Linked DNA regions of Homo sapiens: regions 1 and 2 are each linked to region 3. The links come from fine-mapping of genetic effects on gene expression. A gene starts in region 3. Each other region holds a variant in brackets. All regions are shown on one strand. Distances are between the middles of the regions.

Region 1 (6,960 bases), 56 kb after region 3:
AAGTCAAACTGTTGCTGTTTGCCAATGATATAATTATATATCTGGAAAACTCTGAAGACTTATCCAAAAAGCTCCTAGATCTGACAGATAAATTCTGTATACTTTCAGGATGCAAAAATCAATATACACAAATCAGTAGAACTGCTATACACCAACAATGATAAAGCTGAGAAACAAAGCAAGAACTCAATCCCTTTTACAACAGCTGCAAAATGAAAAAACACTTAGGAATATACCTAACCAAAGAGGGGAAAGATCTCTATAAAGAAAACTACAAAACACTGCTGAAAGAAATCACAGATGACACAAACAAATGGAAACATATGCTCATGGATGGGTAGAATCAACATTGTGAAAATGACTATATTGCCAAAAGAAATCTACAGATTCAGTGCAATTCCCATCAAAATACCATCATTATTCATCACATAACTAGGAAAAAAAATCCTAAAATTCATATGAAACAAAAAAAAAGAGCCTGAATAGCCAAAGCAAGACTAAGCAAAAAGAACAATTCAGGAGGTATTACATTACCCAACTTCAAACTATACTACAAGGCTATAGTTACCAAATAGCATGGTACTAATATAAAAACAGGCACATAGACCAATGGAACAGAATAGAGAACCCAGAAACAGGGTCAATTACTTACAACCAACTGATCTTCAACAAAGCAAACAAAAATATAAATTGGGGAAAAAACACCCTATTTAACAAATAGTGCTGGGATAATTGGCAAGCCACACATAGACAAATTAAACTGGATGCTCATCTTTCACCTTATACAAAAATCAACTCAAGATGGATAAAAAACTTAAATCTAAGATCTGAAGCCATAAAAATTCCAGAGATAACATTGGAAAAACTGATGTTGGCTTAGGCAAAGACTTCATGACCAAGAACACAAAAGCAAATGCAACAAATAAATAAATAAATAGATGGGACCTAATTAAACTAAACAGTTTCTGCACAGCAAAAGAAATAAATAGCAGAGTAAACAGACAACTCAAAGAGTGAGAGAAAACATTCACAAATTATGCATCTGACAAGAGACTAATTTCCAAATCTACAAGGAACTCCAATCAGCAAGAAAAAAGAAATAATACCATCATAAAGTGGTCTGAGGACATGAATAGACAATTCTCAAAAGAAGACATAAAATAGCCAACAAACATATGAAAAGAATTCAACATTATTAATTATCAGGGAAATGCAAATTAAAGCTACAGTGAGATACCACCTCACTCCTGCAAGAATGACCATAATCAAAAAGTAAAAAAATAACAGATATTGTCATGGATTTGGTTAAAAGGGAACACTTTTACACTGCTGGTGAGAATGTAACCTAGCACCACCCCTGTGGAAAACAGAAAGGAGATTCCTTAAAGAACTAAAAGTAGAACTACCATTTGATCCAGTAGTCTCACTATTGGGTATCCACCCAAAGGAAAAGAAGTCATTATATTAAAAAGATATTTGCACACGCAAGTTTATAGCACAATTCGCAATTGCGAAAATACAGAATGAGCCTAAATTCCTGTCAACCAACATGTGGATAAAGAAAATGTGCTACAAATACACCATGGAATACTACTCAGCCATAAAAAGAAATGAAATAATGGCATTTGCAGCAACCTGGAGGGAGTTGGAGACCATTATTCTAAGTGAAGTAACTCAGGATTGGAAACCAAATATCATATATTCTAACTTGTAAGTGGGAGCTAAGCTATGAGGATGCAAAAGCATAAGAATGATACAATGGGGTAGGTGTTCCAAGACAGCTGAATAGAAAGAGCTCCAGTCTGCAGCTCCCAGCGTGATCAATGCAGAAGACAGGTGATTTCTGCATTTCCAACTGAGGTACCTGGTTCATCTCATTGGGACTGGTTGGACAGTGGGTGCAGCCCATGGAAGGTGAGCTGAAGCAGGGCGGAGCATCACCTCACCTGGGAAGTACAAGGGGTCCGGGGATTTCCCCTTCCTAGCCAAGGGAAGCCATGACAGACTGTACCTGGAAAAATGGGACATTCCCACCTAAATACTGCACTTTTCCAATGGTCTTAGCAAACGGGAGACCAGGAGATTCTCTCCCGCACCTGGCTAGGTGGGTCCCATGCCCACAGAGCCTTGCTCTCTGCTAGCACACAGTCTGAGATGGACCTGCCAGGTAGCAGCCTGGCAGGGGAAGGGGCATCCACCATTGCTGAGGCTTGAGTAGGCAAACAACACAGCTTAGAAGTTTGAACTGGGAGAAGCCCACCACAGCTCAGCAAGGCCTACTGCCTCTATTGACTCCACCTCTGAGGGCAGGGCATAGGTGAACGAAAGGCAACAGAAACTTCTACAGACTTAAACTTCCCTGTCTGACAGCTCTGAAGAAGCAGTGGTTCTCCCAGCATGCTGTTTGAGCTCTGAGAATGGACAGACTGCCTCCTCAAGTGGATCTCTGACCCCCGTGTTGCCTAACTGAGAGACATCTCTCAGTAGGGGCTGACTGACACCTCATACAGGTGGGTGCCCCTCTGGGATGAAGCTTCCAGAGGAAGGATCAGGCAGGAATATTTGCTGTTCTGCAGCCTCTGCTGGTGATACCCAGGCAGACAGAGTCTGGAGTGGACCTCCAGCAAACTCCAACAGACATGCAGCTGAGGGACCTGACTGTTAGAAGGAAAACTAACAAACAGAAAGGAATAGCATCAACATCAACAAAAAGGACATCCACACCAAAACCCCATCTGTAGGTCACCAACATCAAAGACCAAAAGCAGATAAAACCACAAAGATGGGGAGAAACCAGAGAAGAAA[AG/A]CTGAAAATTCTAAAAACTAGAGCGTTTCTTCTCCTCCAAAGGATCACAGCTCATTGCCAGCAACAGAACAAAGCTGGATGAAAAATGACCTGACAATTTGACAGAAGTAGGCTTCAGAAGGTTGGTAATAACAAAGTTCTCCGAGCTAAAGGAAGATGTTCGAACCCATTGCAAGGAAGGTAAAAACCTTGAAAAAAAGATTAGATGAATGGCTAACTAGAATAAACAGTGTAGAGATGACCTTAAATGACCTGATGGAAATGAAAACCATGGCACGAGAACTATGTCATGCATGCACAAGCTTCAGTAGCCAATTTGATCAAGTGGAAGAAAGGATATCAATGATTGAAGATCAAATTAGTGAAATAAAGCAAGAGGAGAAGTTTAGAGAAAAAAGAGTAAAAAGAAACAAACAAAGCCTCCAAGAAATATGGGAGTACAGGAAAAGACCAAATCTACGTTTGATTGGTGTACCTGAAAGTGACAGGGAGAATTGAACCAAATTGGAAAACACTCTTCAGGATATTATCCAGGAGAACTTCCCCAACCTAGCAAGGCAGGCCAACATTCAAATTCAGGAAAGACAGAGAACACCACAAAGATACTCCTCGAGAAGAGCAACCCCAAGACACATAATTGTCAGATTCACCAAGGTTGAAATGAGGGAAAAAATGTTAAGGGCAGACAGAGAGAAAGTCGGGTTACCCACAAAGGGAAGCCCATTAAACTAACAGCAGATCTCCTGGCAGAAACTCTACAAGCCAGAAGACAGTGGGAGCCAATATTCAACATTCTTAAAGAAAAGAATTTTCAACCCAGAATTTTATATCCAGCCAAACTAAGCTTCCTAAGTGAAGGAGAAATAAAATCCTTTACAGATGAGAAAATGCTGAGAGATTTTGTAATCACCATGCCTCCCTTACAAGAGCTCCTGAAGGAAGAATTAAACATGGAAAGGAATAACCAGTACCAGCCACTGCAAAAACATGCCAGATTGTAAAGACCATCGATACTAGGAAGAAACTGCATCAACTAACGAGCAAAATAATCAGCTAACATCATAATGTCAGGATGAAATTCACATATAACAATATTAACTTTAAATGTAAATGGCCTAAATGCCCCAATTAAAAGACACAGACTGGCAAATTGGATAAAGAGTCAAGAGCCATCCGTATGCTGTATTTAGGAGACCCATCTCACTGCAGAGACACACATAGGCTCAAAATAAAGGGATGGAGGAAGGTTTACCAAGCAAATGGAAAGCCCAGAAAAAAAAAAGCAGGGGTTGCAATCCTAGTCTCTGATAAAACAGACTTTAAACCAACAAAGATCAAAAGAGACAAAGAAGGCCATCACATAATGGTAAAGGGATCAATTCAATAAGAAGAGCTAACTATCCTAAATATATATGCACCCAATACAGGAGCATCTAGATTCATAATGCAAGTTCTTAGAGACCTAAAAAGAGACTTAGACTCCCACACAATAATAAGGGGAGACTTTAACACTCCACTCTCAGTATTAGACAGATCAATGAGACAGAAGGTTAACAAGGATATCCAGCACAGGAACTCAGCTCTGCACCTAATAGACATCTATAGAACTCTCCACCCCAAATCAACAGAATATACATTCTTCTCAGCACCACATCACACTTATTCTAAAAATGACCACATAGTTAGAAGTAAAACACTGCTCAGCAAATGTAAAAGAACAGAAATCACAACAACTGTCTCTCAGACCACAGTGCAATACAATTAGAATGCAGGATTAAGAAACTCGCTCAAAACTGCACAACTACATGGAAACTGAACAACCTGCTCCTGAATGACTACTGGGTACATAACGAAATGAAGGCAGAAATAACAATGTTCTTTGAAACCAATGAGAACAAAGACACAACGTACCATAATCTCCGGGACACATTTAAAGCAGTGTTTAGAGGGAAATTTATAGCACTAAATGCCCACAAGAGAAAGCAGGAAAGATCTAAAATTCACACCCTAACATCACAATTAAAAGAACTGGAGAAGCAAGAGCAAACACATTCAAAAGCTAGCAGAAGGCAAGAAATAACTAAGATCAGAGCAGAACTGAAGGAGATAGAGACACAAAAAACCCTTCAAAAAATCAATGAATCCAGGAGCTGGTTTTTTGAAAAGATCAACAAAATTGATAGACCGCTAGCAAGACTAATAAAGAAGAAAATAGAGAAGAATCAAATAGACATAATAAAAAATGATAAAGGGGATATCACCACCGATCCCACAGAAATACAAACTACCATCAGAGAATTCTATAAACACTTCTATGCAAATAGACTGAAAAATCTAGAAGAAATGGATGAATTCCTGGAAACATACACCCTCCCAAGACTAAACCAGGAAGAAGTTGAATCTCTGAATAGACCAATAACAGGCTCTGAAATTGAGGCCATAATCAATAGCCTACCAACCAAAAAAAGTCCAGGACCAGACGGATTCACTGCTGAAATCTACCAGAGGTACAAAGAGGAGCTGGTACCGTCCCTTCTGGAACTATTACAATCAATAGAAAAAGAGAGAATCCTCCCTAACACATTTTAGGAGGCCAGCATCACCCTGATACCAAAGCCTGGTAGAGACAAGACAAAAAAAGAGATAATTTTAGACTAATATCCCTGATGAACACTGATGCGGAAATCTTCAATAAAGTACTGACAAACCAAATCCAGCAGCACATCAAAAAGCTTATCCACCATGATCAAGTGGGCTTCATCCCTGGGATGCAAGGCTGGTTCAACATATGCAAATCAATAAACATAATCCATCGAATAAACAGAACCAATGACAAAAACCACATGATTATCTCAATAGATGAAGAAAAGGCCTTTGACAAAATTCAACAGCCCTTCATGCTAGAAATGCTCAATAAACTAGGTATTTATGGAATGTATATCAAAATAATAAGAACTATTTATGACAAATCCACAGCCAATATCATACTGAATGTGCAAAAACTGGAAGCATTCCCTTTGAAAACTGGCACAAGACAGGGATGCCCTCTCTCACCACTCCTATTCAACATAGTGTTGGAAGTTCTGGCCAGGGCAATCAGGCAAGAGAAAGAAATAAAGGGTATTCGATTAAGAAAAGAGGTATTCAAAATGTTCCTGTTTGCAGATGACATGATTGTATATTTAGAAAACCCCATCATCTCAGCCCCAAATCTCCTTAAGCTGATAAGCAACTTCAGCAAAGTCTCAGGATACAAAATCAATGTGCAAAAATCACAAGCATTCCTATACACCAATAACAGACAAACAGAGAGCCAAATCATGAGTGAACTCCCATTCACAATTGCTACAAAGAGAATAAAATACCTAGGAATCCAACTTACAAGGGATGTGAAGGACCTCTTCAAGGAGAACTACAAACCACTGCTCAATGAAATAAAGGAGGACACAAACAAATGGAAGAACATTCCATGCTCGTGGATAGGAAGAATTAATATTGTGAAAATGGCCATACTGCCCAAGGTAATTTATAGATTCAATGCCATTCCCATCAAGCTACCAATGACTTTCTTCACAGAATTGGAAAAAACTACTTTAAAGTTCATATGGAACCAAAAAAGAGCCCTCAATGCCAAGACAATCCTAAGCCAAAAGAACAAAGCTGGAGGCATCATGCTACCTGACTTCAAATTACCCTACAAGGCTACATGGTACTGGAACCAAAACACAGAGATAGACCAATGGAACAAAACAGAGGCCTCAGAAATAACACCACACATCTACAACCATCTGGTCTTTGACAATCCTGACAAAAACAAGAAATAGGAAAAAAGATTCCCTATTTAATAAATGGTGCTGGGAAAACTGGCTAGCCATATGTAGAAAGCTGAAACTGGATCCATTCCTTACACCTTATACAAAAATTAATTCAAGATGGATTAAAGACTTCAATGTTAGATCTAAGGCCATAAAAACCCTAGAAGAAAACCTAGGCAATACCATTCAGGACACAGGCTTGGGCAAGGACTTCACGACTAAAACACCAAAAGCAATGGCAACAAAAGCCAAAATAGACAAATGGGATCTAATTAAACTGAAGAGCTTCTGCACAACAAAGGAAAACACCATCAGAGTGAATAGGCAATCTACAGAATG
Region 2 (6,960 bases), 500 kb after region 3:
ATATGCACATATACAAACAGAGATTCAAAACCATAAGACATAAAATTAAGATAACTGAGCAATATTTTTCACTGAGCATTAGATAGTGAACATTTTCTCCTGTCACTAAATGTTCTTTTACAGCTGCATCTAAGTAGCTGCATTACATTTTATTTTATGCCTCTATCAGTCCTCTATTATTGGGATCTTAGAAATTTGTTTTTGCTGTTATAAATGACACTCTGATGAAAATACTTTTAGATTAATTTTTTCCTATCTCTACTTTCTTAAAATAAATTTCTAGAAGTAAAATTAAGTAGAAGAGTGTGGATATTTTTATGTGTTTGATACGTATATGCCAAATTGTTCTTTAAAAAAGCCATGTGACAGTTTATATTTCTGTGGCAGTCTGTATGAGAACACCCATTTCCCAGCCTGAAATTAGCTTTCTTTTTTTTAACTGCCAATTCAAGAATACGTTATAACTTGGATTGATAACATGAACATTTTTTATATTATTTTTGAACATTTTTATATTATTTTTACTTCTACATGTGGTTACTCTGTTGATGTTTTCCTCTTTTCTTTTATATTTGTAAGACTTATTTATGTGTTAAAGACATTAACCCAGTTGTATTTTATTTCTTTTGCAACTACTTTTTCTCCAGCAGATTCTTCTGTTTTCAACATTTTGCCAAGTGTTACTGAAGAAAAAATAAAATAAATTTTAAAACCAAACCAAAAAACCTCTTTAGATAGCTAACTTTATTTGGGGTTTGTTTCTGAATGCAAGATAGGCATACTGTAGTAAATTCCCTTCTTTCAACCCTGGGTTGAAATCCTGTCAATTAATTAGTTGTATTTAGTCTTACAATAGATAAACCAGGTAGTTTCACATAGCCTGTTTCTAGGGTTTTATCTAGGACATCGTAGGAGTTTCTTGAAGGAAAATATAGCTATAGGGAACATTTTAATTTGGATCTGCTTCATTACTCCAAATATTGTTGAAACAACACCAGATGTCATCTTTACTGGGCAATATACAAACATTGGGAGAAGTTGTACCCATACTAATAAGGGTGAACATAAAAAATGGACTATTGCTCAGATTTGTGTTCTTTACAGCAGAGTGTTTGACAAACTCTTTGATCCTTCTTTTTTTTCACAAGTGGAGATTAGAGCCATTTATTGTTTGGGGGTTGTAATTTATATTTAAACATGGTATGTATGGAATTTAGGAAATTCACCTTAGACATATGAAGCTTAACATTAATGTGTGTGTATATGTGGGTTTGTGTATATGCTGGAGGGAATAAGAAGTGACAAAAGTAATCTAAAATCTTAATGTTGAGAAAAATATTAAAGGTAAATGAAATCTTTATTGTCATAAACTGCTCTCCAATCCAGTACTGATAAACGACGTGGGGAAAGACTATGGAGGTTACTTTCAAAACAAACATTTACCATGTTCCAGGAAATACATGTGTTTGTATAAAAAGCAGGTAGCAATTACATAAACTTTTTTCTTCTTTATCTATTTGCCAAGCAATTGGCTGTTAAGGTCTTTTTGGTTGCCTTTGGGCACTTTGTGTGCACTCTTTTCTGCTTTTAAAAACATAATGCATGGTAACCCATTTGCCACTGACTGGCATTGTGAAGAGTTGGAATGGGGCAGTGTAATAACATGAAAGGCTGATGACAAATTTAGTATTTGTAATTTGGAATCTCTTCTCAGTACATTAGAAGTCTTCCCTATTTAAAGGAACCCTGAAACCATCATTTTATCAAGTGAAGAGTTTGTAACACATGATTACCATTGGTTTTCTTACAAATCAGAATACAGCTTCAGTTTTTGAGGCTCCTACCACAGTTATTATGGTGGTCTCTTACTGGCTGACACTTTGATTATGAGCAGGAAATGTGCTTTCTGCAGCCACACACACACAAAAAGTGACACAAAAGTATTAGGTCATACAGTAGCACGTAAGTTCAGAGTGCCTCCTAGTGGAGTCTAGTGTTGATCAAGTAACATTGGAATAATTTTTTCATTCCTCTAAAAAAATCTCCCCTTTGGCATCATGGTTGGTTATGAATCTTGGGCCTCATAGGAGCACAACATTCTCCACTAAAATAATGTTTTACTCATACTTTTTCCTTTCTTCCTTTAAAAATTAGGTAAGATACCTTCTCTGAATGTGTGAATTTTTTATAGAACACCGAAGATTCTTTGCGTTTAAAATTCCCTCCGTGTAAATTAAGTCCAAAGTGCCTAGGCTTTTCCATTTCTAATGTTTAAGTTAAAGACTTGTAAATTGGGCTGGGTGCAGTGGCTCATGCCTGTAACCCCTGCACTTTGGCAGATTCGGAGGATCCCTTGAGCCCAGGAGTTTGGGAGCAGTCTGGGCAACATAGGGAGACCCCTGTCTCTTCAAAAAAAAATGAAAAAAAAAATAGCTGAGCATGGTGGCACACACCTGTGGTACTAGCTATTTGGGAGGCTGACGTGGGAGGATTGCTTGAGCCTGGGAGGTGGAGGCTGCAGTGAGCCTGATCGCACCACTGCTCTCCAGCCTGGGTGACAGAGTGAGACACTGTCTCAAAACAAAACAACAACCAAAGACACTTGTCAGTGGAAATGTTTGAAATTTTGGAACTATTAGAATGTATTTAACTAAAACAGCTATTGCTTAAATGCAGCATTTTAAGTACTG[G/T]TTTTTTTCAAAGCTCAGACAAGCAGCAATATAGAAATATCCCTGGTCATTTAAGAAACTGAGCCAGGAACAGATTTTAAAACACTTTTGAAAATATTAAATGCTTTAAGTAATTATAGCAAGTATTTTATCCTAAGTTTATATACACAATTAATTTATCAATTTGTAGTGATTATAGTAAGAGAAGATTACTTTTATACTTAGAATAAAAAACTTTTAAAGTCAGCAATATGTGAAATATGTATTGAATATATTATGCTATATTTATCTGAGTATTTTGGTTTAACAAATTAAATGCATATTTTTTTCTTTTTAAAAAATGTATTGACCATATTTATATAACTACTTATCTTTTTATTTGGTAGATTTAAGTAAAATTTATTATTTATTTAACACTTTTGAATTTATATTATACTTGAAGTGGTTTATTTATCCTTGGCCAGCTACCCCCTTGAGACTCTGGCTTTCTATTTTATAGAACTATTTTAATGATAGTTTAAACATGTATACCTGTTACTGGTTATTTTCTGTTCCCCTTATCTTGGGAGTTCAGCATAATGCTGTGCGGATCAGGATAACAAGGTCCCACTGAGGTGAAGGAGGGAGGCTGGGAATGGCTACAGCCTGGAGTGGAGGTGTGATTTCAGTAGGTGGAAGGTTGTCTTCCTGAAAGGAATTGGCAGAAGTAGATTCTTACTGATTCAGATACATTTTCCACCAACTGAAGGAAGGAATTATTAAAGCCAATGGTGAACAAAGCATTTCAAGCATTTTATAGGAAGTGACTAGATGAGGAGATTTTTTTCATTCCTTTTTTAATCAGCAAAAAAGAAATTAGTATTATTGAATTAGCAGATTCTTCCTATTCTATATTAAGAAAGATTTAATTTTTGTACCAAGGAAGGTTAGGTGAAAAAAAAGATTTATTTTTTTTGTAGAAAACTGAAGATAGTTTGATTCAATATGAAACAGTGATATTTATATTTATGCTGATTCCACCACCAAAAAATTATTACATGTACAAATTAAATAGAGATTATCAGCTTAAAAAATATAGAACATTTACATGTGGCTATGAACATTCTGATGCTAATTTTTTTGTTTGATGACTATGTACTTTAAAATCTGGCATTGTCTTTCATGAGATTTACAAGTCCTGTGTCCATTGTGTTGTTTACTTAGGTTATTTGGCTTTCCTCAAACTTAAACAAGCATTAGCTGGTTGCTCCAAAGAGTAACAAAAGAAGATGCAGGAAAATGCTTGGGGCCAGGTGCGGTGGCTCACACCTGTAATCCTAGCACTCTGGCAGGCTGAGGCTCGCAGATCACTTGTGCCCAGGAGTTGGAGACCAGCCTGGTCAACATAGGGAAACCCCATCTCTACAAAAAATAAAAAAATTAGCTGGGAGTGGTGGTGGGCTCTGTTAGTCCCAGCTACTTGTGGGGCTGAGGCAGGAGAATCACTTGAACCCGGGAGGTTGAGGCCATAGTGAGTCATGATGGCACCACTGCACTCCAGCCAGGGTGACAAAGTGAGACAATGTCTCAAAAAAAAAAAAAAAAAAAAAAAGAAGAGAAGAAAAAGAAAAAGAAAAGTGCTTGGAATGGGAGATGAGTTATCCTACTTTGATACTTCTTGTTTCCTCTTTCTACTGATGTCTTTCTCTGCACATCCTTAGGTAAAACTCAAAAATTACTATTGAGATTTTTGCAGGAACCAAATGAGACAGGAAGAAATGTTTTAAACTGCTGTCTAACCTCTAATACTGGTGATGCCGTTTTTGGAGTACCACTAACAGTTTAAAAGTGCTTATCAGAGCAACTCTCGCTGCTTTAATTTGCGTGTACAGATTGCTGTTAGTGTTGTTACTATCTGTTTTGTATCAGGCTAGCTAATTTCCTTGTTTATTAACTAAATGACTTTCTTAATGGCTACCCTTTTGACAAATGAAGAAATCTTAGCTGCTCTGAGAGGGAAAACCAAAATTAAAAATTCACAGTGAAAGGGATGAGGAACATACGTATTTGTGCTGCTGCCGTGTGGTTGGTGTGAGAGAAAAATCTGGTGATTGACCTTGATCCCTAACGGAAAGTCACAAAAATATGTATAATTTGGTCTTCAGCCATAAAATAAATGGCAACTCTCTTCACTTAAAGCAGGGATTTTCATTCCTTTGTTTTGGGTGCGGAAAAGGGAATCTTTTCCAACCTCATTATCAGAGAGTTTAGTGCATTTTTTCCTGAAATGTTTTACAATTTCCATTTTGTCAGACACATTTTGTTGGAGTTCATAGTTTATTAACCATGAGTTATTTTTTTTAGTTTATACTTGAAGATTTAGAGGCCTGTGATATTTTGTTTAAAGGCTTCTAAATGATCCAAACAAATCAGAATATGCACCAGCCTCAGCAAAAACTCCTGTGATCTGTTGACAGATTTTTGGATCTGGGCCCTTGGAAGAGGCACTGGACATTTGTAACAGGAGGTAATTTGAGATCTGTACAAACAAGTTTTTATTTGTTCAAGTTAATGAGGGCAACACCAGTGGAGTTGGACCCTCTGTAGCTAATAGTCTGTGAGCTCCATGGGCCCTTCATGAAGTCAGTCTCCAAAGGTCACCTGCAATCCATGTTAGGAACCAGGTTTGTCGGTCAATAGTCTAGGACTCATAGATCGATCTGTGCCTCTGCAACCAGGGAATCTGACATGGTACCAAAATGTTTATTTATTTCCCAGATGTCATCCCAGAGTTTGGGCAATGAGATTGGATATTTGCAGTTCCACACAGTGGAAATTCACCTTTTAAATAAGGCAAGAAAAATTGATCTTCCTAGTGTCTGGTAGGAGTCTGGTAGGAGTCATCTTTGCTCTTGGTAAGATTATAATTCTCTTACCTGTTTATTGTCATTTTTTTGAGCACCACAGTCAGCCAAATAAGATTAGAGAAAATTGTGAAAGAGAAAGCATTTCTTTCAATTCAGTCCTTTCATTCAACTCTCTTTGTACTTTGCCTCCTTCATTTTCTTTCGTTTGCTCATCACATTCAGAAGCTCACATTCCCTCATCTTACATGAGGGAAGCTATAAATTTCCCTTTTTGAAATAGTCATCTGCTATCTGTGTAACTATGAGCAAGCTGCTTAACCTCTTTGTGCCTTGGTTTTCTTATTTGTAAAATGGTAATAGATATTACCTGTGTCATAAAGTCGTTACATGGATTGAATGCATTAAGGTGTGTCTAACACTTAACTCAGTACCTGGTTGTACAAAGTGCTAAATGACCATTTATCTAATTATTGCTAATGGAACCTAATAATAGAATAATGATAGAGAGCCATATGCTTCATTGCCAAGTTTCAAAATGCTAAACAAAAATGAATTGTGAATTATTTTGAATGTGCAACAGCACAAGGGCTGGTGTTTTGCTTCTTCTGTAAAAAACAGACTTAAAGAATATCTTTAACATACCAAAGGACTGTTGGGTCATTCTTCAGAAGACTACTGGCATAAAAGAGATTGTCCTAAGAATCCCAGGAATAATAATGAGTCTCTTATTTTTATTGGAAAAGGAGACAACAACAGCCATGGAACTGGTTATTTTATGTATCTTCTGTAACTTTCATTTCTCTCATAATAGACATGGTGCTTTTAAAAATCCAATGTGAATGCTCTAAATCATAAGATCATTATTAAATATTATTTTAAAATTAATATGTCATGGTGAGTGTATTTCTGAGCCATCACATTCATAAACATTTAGAATATAACCTCACCCTTTTGCTTAGAGAATACCTTATGCAAAATGATTTTGAAGGACATTTTGTTTCCTAGTATGTGTTTTCAGCAGGTGGCTAATGGCTTTCGACCTGCTGTAGCAGTATACAGAACTGAATGTCAGGCAGAATATTTTTTAAAGCTGCATTTCCATTTTGCATAATGAAGCACAATAATTTTTCTGAGAGTGCCTTGAATATTTTTCCAAAGAATTATTGATAGAGATATGTCATTTTGGTAGGAAAGAGAAGAGAAAATTGGCAATGTTCCAGCATTTAGGTTTTAAGAATATTTAAGTATAATCAGATTGCTAAATACAAACATTTTTTTAAAATAGTATCAGGTCAAATGTATTTACATGTTAGAAGCCATATAAAGTACATGGTATTAGCCTTCCACCTTTCCTGTATGCTTAGGCCATTGTTCCTACTACTACTACTACTAATAATAACACACTTCAACCTACTCACTTTTCTCTTTAGTAATTTCCATTTTCT
Region 3 (6,960 bases):
AAGTGAATTCTATGCTATACAAGTTCCAAGAACACTACTTAAAAAAACAAAAACAAAAAAATCAGGAAACGCTCCATACTACATCTCTCTGTTGTAAATGAATGACAATAGGAAGCACATTAGAAAATTAAGTACTTAGAGAATCCCTGTTTGTCTTTGAGAAATGCTGGGTTAAATAAACTCATTCGAGAAATTTTGTTTTTCTTTCCAATTAAATGTATATTTAAATATACCATGGAAATGATCTTAAGGATCATGTTTGAGAAACATGGCAATAAAGTTTTCAGGCATTCAAACTTAAACTGAAACGTAAACTAGTAATTTATTGGGTCACACTTTTTATTATTATACTTTTTTTTGAGACCTTGCCTCGCTCTGTCACCAGGCTGGAGTGCAGTGGCGCCATCTCGGCTCACTGCAACCTCCACCTCCCGGGTTCCAGCCATTCTCGTGCCTCAGCCTCCTGAATAGCTGGGACTACAGGCGTGTGCCACCGCACCCGGCTAATTTTTGTGGTGTTTTGTTTTGTTTTGAGACAGAGTTTCCCTCTGTTGCCTAGGCCGGAGTGCAATGACACGATCTCGGTCCACTTCAAACTCCGCCTCCTGGGTTCAAGTGTTTTTCCCACCTCAGCCCTCCAAGTAGCTGGGATTGCAGGCATGCGCCACAATGCCCAACTAGTTTTTGTATTTTTGGTAGAGACGGGGTTTCACCGTGTTGGCCAGGCTGGTCTCGAACTCCTGACCTCAGTTGATCTGCCTGCCTCAGCCTCCCAAAGTGCTGCAATTACAGGCGTGAGCCACGGCGCCCGGCCATAATTTTTTGTATTTTTAGTAGAGACGGGTTTCACCATGTTGGCCAGGCTGGTATCCAAGTTCTGACCTCAACTGATCCGCCCGCCTCGGCCTCCCAAAGTGCTGGGATTACAGGCGTGAGCCACCATGCCCAGCCTATTGGGTCACTATTATCTCAGATTAAGCTTCTTAAATTGGGGACCTCTGGGTAGATGCTGCTCCAGACTAAACCTGACAAATTTTCTAGGAGTGACAATTACATTTGATAACAATTTTAGGCAATATTTTATATTAAATATAAAATGTTATATTTTGGAATAATATAGAAATTTCAGAGGAATTTTAAGATAATACACAAGATAAGACATTTTTTACTTGTGTCCAACTTTTTTATCTTCGCATTCCTTTGACACTGAGATGCTTCACAATTACCAATTTTGTAAAACTATGATCAAGACATTAATGGAGGGGAACTTTGGTAGGGACAAGAAAAGTGGACAGGGAAATAATTCTTCAACACAAATCTACCTTCAGTAGAAGAGCTGCAGCGGACTTGCAATCAATAAATGGTTACTTAGCATCTAATGCGCAAAGCAAGGGGCCCTGGGTTCCTTGAAGAGGAAGAATAAGAACAAAAAGTATACTTAGGCTTTGACTTAGTTTTCTATTAACTTAAAAAATGAGCTGTTTCCAACCCTCTAAAATCTATATTTCTAAGGTTGTATTTCTTCCAATTAATCCTTGACTGATTATACAGAAAATATTCTCGGACTATGACTCAAGTGACCAAAAAATATCTACATTCCAATTCAGCTAAGCTTCGGCATGTCCTTCTTGACTCCTCTCCACCTCTTCTCCACCCTTCCTCAAAGTCAACTCAGGTTAACTTCCTATTTTCCTTCAACCTCTGTATTGAACACACCAGAAGCAGCTTTAACCTTCCCTGTGCCTTCTTTCAAGGGAGCTGTTCTCCCTCCAGGATATCACTCCTCCAAACTGAGCTTAGATTGCAAGCCCCTGAGGGTATAAATCTGAACTGAATCTGTAACTCCCAAGAGAACCTAAAAGAGATCCTAGAACAAAACAGATGCTGGATAACTAATGTAACACAATGAAGATTAAGGCTCAACAACGTCGGGAGCCTTTGCTAATTTACTCACTGGGCTCCTCTGGTGACCACATACTCTCAAACTAAATACACTCACAAAACATGAATGTCTGTATCTAATTTATACGATAGATTTTTCATAGCTTTCTTCCTTGTAAGGCATCCCACTCCCACCTGCAAACGTATTACTCCTTCCCCTGAGGCAATGAAACAAATGTAAAAGTAAAATACCTTTAAAGAGTGCCTAGGTAAATTTTTGTCTTTATAATGTAAAATAAACTCCCCAGGGTATACCTTTCCCAAAGGAAGGTTCTTGTAATCTTCCCTGTAAGTCTTGAATCCGCTAAACTGAGGTAAAACACAAAAGAGAAAAAGGCTTGTATTGCAAGTTTGAACTGTAGTGATAAAGGAGAAGCTGAACTTTGGAAGGCTGGCTGGGGGCCGGTAGGTTGACCTTGGTGAGAGCGCAAGCAAGTTCCAAACCCGGGGCCACCTTGCAGGGCGCGTCCACCGTCCCACGGACCCCGCGCACCTGCCCTCTCCCCCGGCTGGCTCGCCGTGCCCACCTCGCTCTCCACTGGCCCGAGCCTCAAGCGGGCGCTGGACTTTACCTTGCGTGACGGCCAAGAGGCAGTAGTGAAGCAGAAAGCCTCCAGGTGTGTTGCAGCGCTGGAGACATTGAGGATGGAAGTTCCTCCAGCCGTAAGACCCCTCCTCAAACTCGGACAGCGACAGTGACCGGAGCTTCTCTTCGGAGACATTGGGAGGGGCTGAAGGCAGAGATGGCTCTGGTGACTTCTGGGGCTCCTGGGGCTTCTGAAGCTCCTGTGGCTGAGAATTCTCTCTTTGGGGGTCAGAGGACAAGGCAGAGACTTCGATTTGGGAGGGCGACGCAGACAAGCGGCGCAGGATGTCTGGGCTGGAGGGGACAAAAGCCAAGTTCTCAATACCTTTGGCGCTCTTCATGTCTGGATGGGTTCTCCCGACTCCGGTGCTTCAGAGCAGCAGAGCCAGGTCCCTCTCTGGCTCCTCCCACAGGCAGGTGACAGCGCCCCCGTGCGGGAAGCTTCCCGCCTCCTGGCCCTCCAGCCTCCAGCGCACTCTCCGCCACCGCCTGAACCTTCCTACTCCAGCTCGCAGCTGTCTGGAGCGCAGAGCGCTGAGCGGGGGCGTTAGCGCCCCAGCCTGTGGCTTTGGCGCTCAGCTGTGCCTCACCCGTCGCCTCAAGGACCAACCGGAAGGCGCGGCGTGGGCGTGCCACCCGGCGGCGGCCGAGTAGAGGGGGCGAGAGTTCTCACCCCACAGCCTTCGACCGGAGTCCGCCTCCGCCCAAGCCCCTGCGGTTCTGACCTGAGCCTTCAGCCCGCAGCGCGCCTCCCTTGAGCCCAAGCACTGGGAACACACAGAGACTGTGGGAGTCTCTGGCCATAAGCTCCCCTTGGGTGCTGACATGAAACCTGTAAACAGTTGCATCAGGAGATTGTTCAGGAAACTATCTTGCGTTTTCTTCCTTTGCTGCTTACCAAAGCAGTCTAGGCTTGGACTCCAAGAATCAAGACGTCAGAGGTATACTTTGGTTCATGAGCATCTTGATAAGACTCTTGCCTGTCATCCTGTTACTGGTAGAAGGTGTCCAGGTTCTTGGCATCTTGAAGAAAGAATTGAAGAAAACGCACAAACAAAGCAAGGAAGGAATGAAGGGGTTTATTGAAAATGAAAGTACACTCCACAGTGTGGGAACGGGCGAGCATAGGGGCTCAAAGGCCCGGTTACAGAATTTTGGGGAGTTTAAATACCCCCTAGAGGATTCCATTGGTTACTTTGGGTATGCCCTATGTAAAGGGAGAAGATGAAGTAAAGTTACAAAGTCATTTATGGCCTACGCCCTATGGAGAGGATATTTCCTGTTACAGCTGAAGTGTGAATAGGCCTTATGTTTCCTGCCTCCAGACCCTATTTTCCTGCCTCAGTCCTCCTTAGAAAAAGAAATCCACCCCACCCCACCCCCATCACCACCAGGATGAACATCACAGCATAACCACTGCTTTGCTTTTCCTTCTCCGAAACTGAAGGACCAGAAATTGTCTCTCTGCTGTATATTGCATATGTAAGATATACAGTGATGACAATCATGTAAATAATTTCTACCGGGCCAGGCGCGGTGGCTCACGCCTGTAATCCTAGCACTTTGGGAGGCTGAGGCGGGTGGATTACCTGAGGTCAGGAGTTCAAGATTAGCCTGGCCAACATGGTGAAACACTGTCTTTACTAAAAATACAAAAATTAGCCAGGTGTGGTGGTGCAGGCCTGTAATCCCAGCTACTTGGGAGGCTGAGGCAGGAGAATCATTTGAACTCGGAAGGTGGAGGGTACAGTGAACCGAGATTGTGCCACTTCAATCCAGTCTGGGTGAAAGAGTGAAACTCTGTCTCTTAATAATAATAATAATAATAATAATACATGTCTAACTGTGGAATAAATAAGAAAAACACTTCGAAGAGCTTAACACCATTGTGTCATGGTAGGTACAATTTAGTCATTCATTCTTTCACTTAACACAGACACAAAAAATTCTTGTGTCCTAGGTGCCAAACATTGTTCTAAGTTCTGGGGGTACACAAGTGAACAAAGACTGGCAAATACCCCTACCCTTATGGTGCTTATGTTTTAATAGGAAACAGACAGTAATAATACATAGTACATGGCACATAATATGATAAATACTATTTTGTGAAACTTTTGTTTCAATTATATATGCTGTGTTTACTGGGTTGAGAGACAGATATAAAATATGTATCTTACTTTGGACAGAGGTACATTCTGTTACCTGTTTCCTCACAATCGAGAAAACTCTAGACTGGCCAGCCGGGCGCAGAGGTGCAGGCCTGTAATCCCAGTACTTTGGGAGGCCAAGGTGGGTGCCTTGAGTCCAGGAGTTTGAGACCAGCCTGGGCAACACGACAAAACCCTGTCTCTACCAAAAATGCAAAACTTAGCCTGGCATGGTGGTGCACGCCTGTAGTTCCAGATACTTGGGAGGCTGAGGTGGGAGGGTCGCTTACAACCTGGGAGGGTGAGGTTGCAATGAGTACTCCAGCTGTGCCATAGAGCCAGACCTTGTCTCAAAAAAATAAGAATTAAAAATAAAAATAAATTCTAGATTGGCCTAAAACATGGGGAAAGAGTAGAAGTAGGAGCTAACATTTAAAATGTCTGCTATATGCCCCATTATTAAAATCTTTACAAAAGCAGCTGCACTGTTATATATAGTTTACATATTGAGGAAACCATATCCCATAAAGAATTAGTAACTGTCCCAAAGTCACATAGCTAATAAGTGAACTGCCACTTAAGGATCTGAACTCGGCTCTCTTAGCCAGAAGTCTTCCCTAAACTTTGCATTTTCTGTCTTTTAATAACTACAGTGTATCTCCATCAGGTTAAATTATTGCATAGCAATTTTAAGAGATCAAAATTCAAAATTCTGTGATATTCGTGAGGCTTAGAAGATTAATGCTGCTCTGAAAACCTAGATTTTGGAGGTATTCAAATTAAGCATGGTATGTAATCTTCCTGGGCTTGCTTTCTACAAAAATGGACTCAAAGTAGGTAACTATTTTGATCACCATTTTATCTATGGAATACGAAGTAATTTACACAACCAGAAAATTTTGTTTTGATGGGATGTGATTACATACAATCATGGCTTAAGACTATTTTGCAGCTGTGACTTAATAAATCCATGCTATACTATCAAAATCAGAGTAGCATAATCATCGTGCACTTAAATTCATACTAAGGAGAAATCTCCACTCTCACAGTGTTAGAGAGAGAATTTTGGTTAAAGATTAGCAAAATTACTATTGCTTCATCTTAAATACATCTTGCTCTTACTGAAAGTTTCAATTTCCTGTTCCCTTACATTCTTTATGCTGCAGTGATGGAAGGGGCTTCGGTTTGCAACAAAAACCAAAAAACAAAAATAGGAAAGAAAAATTGTTAGTTTTCATCCCTGATAATTCTATGGAAAAACGTCCATTTTAAAATTAATTGTTTGGTCAATCTAGGTTAAATCTGCCTCTAATGAACACAGTCAAAATATACCATCTTAAATTTCAGAAGGTAATTGATACTTTACTCTTCTTATAGTACATTTTATTTGCTATGTTTTTAAAGGGTGGAGAATGGGAGAAAGAGAATGTCCAAAATTTATGGTAAGGCTCCCACACTGTAAACAGAAGCAGTCCCTGCCTCTGGATATCATTCTCTGGGATGTGCAGTAGGTCTTTCCTTTCAGGAATTGGATGAAACAAGGTGAAGTGGCTTAATGACAGAAGTTATCAAGATTGTCCTACTAACTCCCCTTGCTCTGATTCCATGCTTAAGAGCGATCTTATGATTTGGGCCTTCCATGTAGATATGTATACTGGATGAAAATGTATTGATATGCCTATCTTGAGTACTTTATCATTTTCCCCTCTGTGTTGTTAATGCTTTATTAGTTCCCTTCTGGTTTTAGACTAAATGTGAACCCTTTAGCAGTATAACACTATGAGCTCATAGAATATTAAAATTAGAGGGATCTTGACAGTGGCTGATTACAAACATGGTCAAATGTGAATATCGTTGAGGTTAATTACAAATCCTAGTATTAACGGTTTATTAATATCACAGCATCTTATATTAACTGAATAAAAGCAACCAGACAATCTAAGTGACCATCTTAGTATTATTGATTTATCTTTTCAGTTTTAAATGTTTCACAAAACATATAGTTAAAAATAATAAGTTAAATCTAAGAAAAAAATTAACACTGAACTGTATTGTTTTTAATACTGTTTTAAATTGCAATTACACATAAATATATAATCATATTGAGAAGAAATGCAACTGTACTTTTTCTTTTCATCTTATTCATCATAAATCATTAAGAAATACATACATAAGCCAGGCACGGTGGCCCATGCCTGTAATCCCAGCATTTTGGGAGGCCAAGGCAGGAGGATTGCCTGAGCTCAGGAGTTCGAGACCAGCCGGGGCAACACGGTGAAAACCCGT

What was found. PIP is the estimated chance that this variant, and not a neighbour inherited with it, causes the effect.
Region 1: its variant is the best candidate, but not a certain one, in a credible set for the expression of SLCO4C1 in whole blood (GTEx, PIP 0.52).
Region 2: its variant is the best candidate, but not a certain one, in a credible set for the expression of SLCO4C1 in whole blood (INTERVAL, PIP 0.66).

What each region holds. Positions count from the first base shown.
Region 1 is chr5:102,349,552-102,356,511 of GRCh38, forward strand. No RefSeq gene overlaps it. Among named protein-coding and RNA genes, the nearest start is that of SLCO4C1, 57 kb to the left of the region's middle. The variant AG/A (reference allele first, on the strand shown) is at 2,806.
Region 2 is chr5:102,790,953-102,797,912 of GRCh38, forward strand. All of the region lies in intron 1 of PAM (peptidylglycine alpha-amidating monooxygenase), which reads left to right. Among named protein-coding and RNA genes, the nearest start is that of PAM, 39 kb to the left of the region's middle. The variant G/T (reference allele first, on the strand shown) is at 2,691.
Region 3 is chr5:102,293,395-102,300,354 of GRCh38, forward strand. It overlaps SLCO4C1 (solute carrier organic anion transporter family member 4C1), which reads right to left and starts at 2,890. Exons shown (of 13, transcript NM_180991.5): 1 at 2,514-2,890. The coding sequence starts at 2,868. RefSeq lists an enhancer at 2,656-2,855.